Homo sapiens: one gene and its partner. The protein of the gene in region 1 interacts with the protein of each later gene in a pairwise test. Each region holds a gene or a part of one and is shown in the gene's direction. Other genes may lie near its edges.

The links. Proteins that work in one complex are often made in the same cells at the same time.
Region 2: the proteins of ATF6 (region 1) and NNMT interact in a two-hybrid assay, tested with the Homo sapiens proteins (one large-scale study listed by BioGRID and IntAct).

The regions. Positions count from the first base shown.
Region 1 is NC_000001.11:161,769,320-161,772,819, forward strand, and holds part of ATF6 (cyclic AMP-dependent transcription factor ATF-6 alpha), read left to right. Parts: exon of another isoform or gene 1-3,296; intron 3,297-3,500.
Region 2 is NC_000011.10:114,299,399-114,302,898, forward strand, and holds part of NNMT (nicotinamide N-methyltransferase), read left to right. Parts: intron 1-3,500. UniProt on the Homo sapiens protein: Catalyzes the N-methylation of nicotinamide using the universal methyl donor S-adenosyl-L-methionine to form N1-methylnicotinamide and S-adenosyl-L-homocysteine, a predominant nicotinamide/vitamin B3 clearance pathway.

The DNA.
Region 1 (3,500 bases):
CCCCTTCATCCCCAGCTTCTCCTATTGGTAACATCTTGCATTAGTGTGGTACATTGGTTACAATTGATGAGCCAGTATTGATACATTATTATTAACTAAGCCCATCATTTAAAGTTCACTCTGTTGTACATTCTATGGCAGGGATCCCCAGCCTTTTGGCACCAGGGACTGGTTTCATGAAAGACAATTTTTCCACAGGAGGTGGGGACAGGGAGGCACAGGAAATGTTTTCAGGATGATTCAAGTGCATTACATTTATTGTGCACTTTATTTGTATTGTTATTACACTGTAATATATAATGAAATAATTATATAACTCAACATAATACAGAATTAGTGGGAGCCCTGAGCTTGTTTTCCTGCAACTAGATGGTCTCATCTGGGGGTGATGGGAGACAGTGATTAGATCATCAGGCGTTAGATTCTCATAAGGAGCGTGCACTCTAGATCCCTCACATGTGCAGTTCACAGTAGGGTTCACACTCCTATGAGAATCTAATGCTGCTGCTGATCTGACAGGTCGTGGAGCTCAGGCGGTAATGCAAGTGATGGGGAGTGGCTGTAAATACAGATGAAGCTTCGCTCACTCACCCACCTGCTGCTCACCTCCTGCTGTGTGGCCTGGTTCCCAACAGGGTTGGGAACCACTGTTCTATGGGTTTTGACAAAGGTATAATGACATGTATCCATAATTACAGTATTATATAGAATAGTTTCACTGCCCTAAAAAAGCCCTATGCTCTACCTATTTTTTCCTCCTTCCTCTTCCCTACCTCTGGTCAGGTAACCACTGATCTTTTCACTGTCTCCATGGTTTTGCCTTTTGCAGAATGTCATATAGTTGGAATCATACAGTATGTAGCATTTTTGAATTGGCTTCTTTCACTTAGCAATATGCACTTAAGGTCCCTCCATGTCTTTTCATGGCTTGATAGCTCATTTCTTCTTAGCACTAAATAGTATTACAAAAATACTATTTACAGTGTTACAAAAAATAGTATGTATGTTCTATAGCCTATTAGTCTGCCTAGGCTGCCATAAGACAACACCACAGACTGCGTGGTTTAAACAATGGAAATTTATTTTCTCCCAGTTCTGGAGGTTAGAGTTCAAGATCAAGATGGCCGCACCTTCAGGTTCTGGTTAGGGCTCTCTTCCTGGCTTGCATGCACATGGCTGCCTTCTTCTTGTGTCCTCACATGGCACTGAGAGAGAGAATCTTCTTCTTCTTATAAGGCCACAGTCCTATCAGATTAGTGCCCCACTTTAATGACCTCATTTAACTTTAATTACCTCCTAAAGACTGTATCTCTCGATATAGTAATATTTGGGGTTAGGGCTTCAACATACGAATTTTGGAGGACACAGTTTAGGCCATAAATTCACAGTTTGCTTATCCACTTACCTATTGAAGCACATCTTGGTTGCTTCCAACTTTTGGCAATTATATATAAAACTGCTGAAAACATTTGTGTGCAGGTTTTTGTGTGGACATGCATTTTCCAATTGTTTGGGTAAATATCAAGGAGCACAATTGCTGGATTGTGTGGTAAGAACATGTTTTTTGTTTGTTTTGTAAGAAATTGCCAAACTGTCTTCCAAAGTGGCTATACCATTTTGCATTCCCGCTAGCAATGAATGAGCATTTTTGATGCTCCACATCCTTGCTAACATTTGGTGTTGCCAGTACTTTGGATTTTAGTCATTCTAATAGGTGTGTAGTGGTATGTTTTAATTTGCAGTTTCCTGATGACATATGATGTTGAGCATCTTTTCATATGCTTATTTGCCGTCTGTATGTTTTACCCTCCTCTCTCCTTCTCTCTTCTCTTTTACTCTTGCTTGAATTTGTGCAAAAGCTGCTTTATTCTGCTTTCTTCTTTCTTCCCTCCTCCTCCTCCTTTCTCCTTTCTCCTTTTTCCTTCTCTTTATTCTTCTGTCAGCTGTACTTAAGATATGTGTATCAAGATCAGAAGCTTTCGTCTGCCACTGTGGTTTCGTTTATGTCTTCAGTCTCTTCTGTGAAGGTTCTCTTGGCTTTCTAGCACTAAATCAAAATCTGGTGCTCCTGGATGACACAACTTCCCGTAATGCCCCGGTGAACGGTTGCTAATTTTATTCTCAAAACCTTTTCACCATAGGGCCTCTGTTGGTGGGATAGGTGTCTCCATTGTCCTTCACTGCTATTCTCCTTTCCTCCTCCCTAAAAATATCTAAGTTGAAATCTCATTTTGTCACAATATCCCATCCTCTACCTCTCCTGATTCCTGGATCACTCTCTTTCACTTTTCTTTTTTTCTTTTAGAGATGGGGTCTTGTTCTCTTGCCCAGGTTGGAGCTGGAGTATGCGGTGGAGCAATCACAGCTCACTGCATCTTCAGACCCCTGGGGTCAAAGGATCCTCCTGCCTCAGCCTCCCGAGTAGCTGGGACTACAGACACATGCCACCATGCCTGGCTTCTTTTTGGCTTTTTGAAAACATTTTGCCACTAGCTTACTGTTACTTTCTTCACCATTACTTCCATCATGATTCTTGGATGATTTCAGTATCCTTAGAGAAGATCCTTCAGATACACTGACCTGTCATTTTCTGGACCTCCTCTTTATCACTGATCTTACCTTTTACCCAGTCTCAGCCATTTGCTTTCCTGATCATAAGCCTAAGTCTTGTCACTACCAATAACATCTCACTTTCAAACATCCTGCTCTGACTGCCTTCGCCTGTTTTACCAGCTTACTTCCTTTAGTATTCCAGTTTCAATAGTTGTTCAGTCCTTCTGAGATTTTGCCATGTTTCCAGTGTCTCTCATTCTCTTCAGTTCATCACGTCCCTCTTACCCAGTTTAAATACCATGGACAGTCATTGTCACTATTTCCTTCCTTTCACCTTTCATATTCATGTCTGTCTCTTTTCTGGTAGGTTTCTCTTGGATAAACCTATTAGTTAAATTCAGTTTTGCCCACTTCATGCCTGTCCTAGTATAGCTGAATCAGCTGAAGAAAACACTTCAACTGTCCTGACTGGTCTCAATTTAAGTGTTGCCAGACCAATCATATTTCCCTGGTCCTCTCACTGTCCCATTCTGATGATTGCTTTATAAAGTTTCTTCTATCTTCAAACCTCCAACATCTCTCCCATCCTTTGAATCAGAAGAGAACTTCTACAGTCTCCCACTACCTCATTTACCCACCTATCAACATGTTTGCTTTCTCTTTTGTTGGTGAGAATGAGTGGCTTCTTGCTCCTAGCTAGAGCCAGTCCTTCCATATGTGCTTTAGATTCTTCCTGTTTTGTTCAAGAATATTGCTCAAGCTATTCTTCCTCCTGTTTCCTGCATCAGCATTTCCCCTCTCTACTAGATCATCTCTGTCAGTAAATGAACATGTTGTTGTTTCTCCTAGAAGTACTGTTTCTATATCTAGATAGTACTCTAGCTAGAGTTAAAAAAAAAAAAAACAAAACCAACAAACTCAAAACTCTCTTCAGATGTTACTTCACC
Region 2 (3,500 bases), on another chromosome or scaffold:
GAATTACATTGGAAAATTTTGAATGTTACACCAAAGTGGCATAAACTACTTGGTCATGAAGTATAATTGAGCTATAATTTTCTTCTAGTGTGCTTCACAAATTTTGATATCAGCATGATGCTGGCTGGAGTCATAAAATGAGTTGGGAGTGATATCCCCTCTTCTATTTTCTGAAAGAGTTTGAGTATTATTAGTATAATTTCCTTCTTAAATGATTGATAGCATTTACCAGCGAAGCCAGGTGAATCTGAAATTTTTGTGCGAGAGAAGACTTTATTAAAAACAGTATTTCTTTAATGGTTACTTGGATTTTCCGTTTGTTCTTTTGTCTGTTTTGGTAAGTGGTACTTTTCAAGAAGTTTGTCCTTTTTATCTTGGTTGTCAACTTTATTGGCATTTTTTTTTTTTTACAATATCCTTTTAATACCTTATTATGTCTGTAGGATCTGTAGTGATCTCTCCTCTTTCATTCTTGATATTGGTAATTTGTCTTGTTTTCTTTCTGTTGTCTTGATCAACCTTGCTACAGATTGATCATTTTATTAATCTTTTCCAAAAACCAACTTTTGGCTATGTTGATTTTTCTCTATTGTCTGTCCATTTTCTATTTCATTGCTTTCTGCTCTTATTTTTGATCACTTTCTTTCTTCTAGTTATTTTAATTTTAATTCTTTTCTAGTTTACTTTATTTTTTTCTAGCTTTCTAAAATGTCTTGTTTTTAATTCTTCTTTTAGCTTCTTAAGTTGGAAACTTATATCATTTATTTCACATATCTCTTTTTCTAATGTAGGCATTTAATGCTGCAAATTTCCTTTAGCACTGTTTTAACTGCATCCCATGATTCTTGTATGTGGTATTTTTATTATTTTCAAATTCAGCATATTGTCTCATTTCCTTTGTAATTTCTTTTTTGACCATGAATTATTTAGAATTATGTTGCTTAATTTCCAAAGTATTGGGATTTTTCTAGCTATCTTATTGTTATTGCTTTCAAATTAAATTTTGTTGTAGTCAGAGATTTATTTTGTGGCTCTGCATATGGTCTATCTCAGTAAACGTTCTATGTGCTTTCTACATTGAAAAGAGTGTATATTGTTCAGTTGTAGATATAGTTTCTATAAATATCAATTAAGTCAGGCAGGTTGATAGTATCATTCAAATTTTCTACATCCTTACTGACGTTTTGTTTACTTTCTCTGTCAATTACTGAGAGTGTTAATGTCTCAAACTATGATTGTTGATTTATCCTTTGCTCCCTATAGTTCTGTCAACATTTGCTATATGCATTTTGACACTTGTTTTTAGCTCTGTTATATACATTTTTAGGATTGTTATGTCTTCTTGATGAACTGACCACTTTACCATTGTGAAATATCTCCCTTTATTTCCAGCAATGTATTTGTCTTGAAGTCTACTTTTTCTGATGTTAATATAGCTACATCACCCTTCCTATGCTTGCTGTTTTGCATGGTGTGGTGGGCAGCCTCTAAGATGGCCCCCAATAATCCTTGTGTCAGTATTTTCACCTTTGTGTAATCCCCTTCCCTAGAATATCCACTGGATTTAGTGATTCAGTACTGACAAGTTTGGTAGAATGCAGCATAGTGATGGGATATCAATTGTGATATTAAATTAAAAGGACTACAGCACCACTACACACCTATTAGATCTAGGCCAGAATCTGGAAGACTGACAACACCAAATGCTGATGAGGCTGTGGGGAAAGAGGAACTCTTATTTATTGTTCGTGGGAATTAAAAATGGTGTAGCCATTTTGGAAGACAATTCGACTATTCCTTGCAAAACTATTCAATCTAGCAGTTGCACTCCTTGGTATGTAACCCAGAAAGCTGCATGTATTACACTCCTCAGTATGTAACCCAAAAAGCTGTGGTATGTCTACACAAAAAGCTGCACACAGATGTTTATAGTAGCTATATTCATAATTGCCAAAAATTGGAAGCAACCAAGATGTCTTTCAGTAAGCGAATGAATAAATAAACTGTGGTACATTTAGACAATGGAATAATATCCAGTGCTAAAAAGAAATGAGCTATCAAGCCACGAAAAGACATGGAGGAAATGTAAATACAATTACTAATTGAAAGAAGCCAATCTTAAAAGGCTACATGTATGATTCCAACTATATGACATTCTGGAAAATGCAAAACTAGGGAAGAAGTAAAGAAGATAAGTGGTTGCTAGGGGTCGGGGAGGGAGAGATAAATAGGTGGAGTATAGAGGATTTTTTAGAGCAGTGAGACTACTCTGTACAGTACTATAATGGTGGACACATGTCATTATATATTTGTCCAAATCCATGGAATGTACAATACCAAGAGTGAATCTTAACGTAGATTACAGACTTTGGGTGATAATGGTATGCCAATGTAGGCCTTCTGCTTGATTTTGCGGTGAACCTAATATTGCTGTAAAAAACAAAATCAATTTTTAAAAAATGACAGCTTTTTATTGGGTATTCTGTCTCTATCTCACTCTCTTGTCCTGGGGAGTGAGCTTGGAACCAAATTTCCCCCAGTTGAACCAGAAAAAACAGAGAAATAAGTGTTTGTCATTTTTAGCTGCTAAATTTTGGGGATAATTTATCCTGCAGTTACATATAACTAATATACATGATATATCTACATATCTTTTTCTACCCTTCTGTTTTCAGATTATGTTTTCTCTTTTTAATCCAGACTGACAATTTCTGCCTCTAACTGGATTGTTTAGTCCATTTACATTTAATGTAATTACTAATATTACAGGGTTGAATTTAAATCTACCATCTTGGTATATGATTTCTATCTGTCCCATCTGATTGTTGTTCACCTGTGTCTTTCTTCCTGTTTTCCCTTGGTGAATGCAGTAATTTTTAGTATTCCATTTAGTATAAGTGTACATATTTTTAGTATTTATTTTTTATCTCCCCTGTTAACCTCTTCTGTGTCTTGTGTGAGTTTGTGTGGTTTTTCTAGGAATTGCAATATGCATCCTTGACATATCTATTGTCTCATGAAGGATGTAAGATATTCCAAAAGTGTAATTTCCTTAACCGACTTTCCTGGCCCTTATGTTCTTGTCATGTATTTTATTTCTATGTATAACACTATAATACATATATTGTTATTAGTTTTGCTTTAGTTAGTAGTGATTTTATTTATTTTTATTGTCTTATTTTTAATTTTGATTTTTAAAATAAAATTTACCATCTTTACTATGTTTAAGTGTTAGTTGAATAGTGTTAAGTATAGTCACATAAGTCAGTATACAGTTTTAAACAATGTATATAACAATATATATTAAACATAGGAATTTTGGACTGAATGTTTTTATCCCTCCCTCCCAATTTCTGTGTTGAAATCCTAACCCCCTTATGATGGTATTAAGAGGTCGGGGCTTTGAAAGGTCATTAGGTCATGGAGGTGGAGACTTCATGAATGGGATTAGTGCCCTTATAAAAGGAACCCCATAGAGCTCTCTAGCTCTCCTTCTGCCA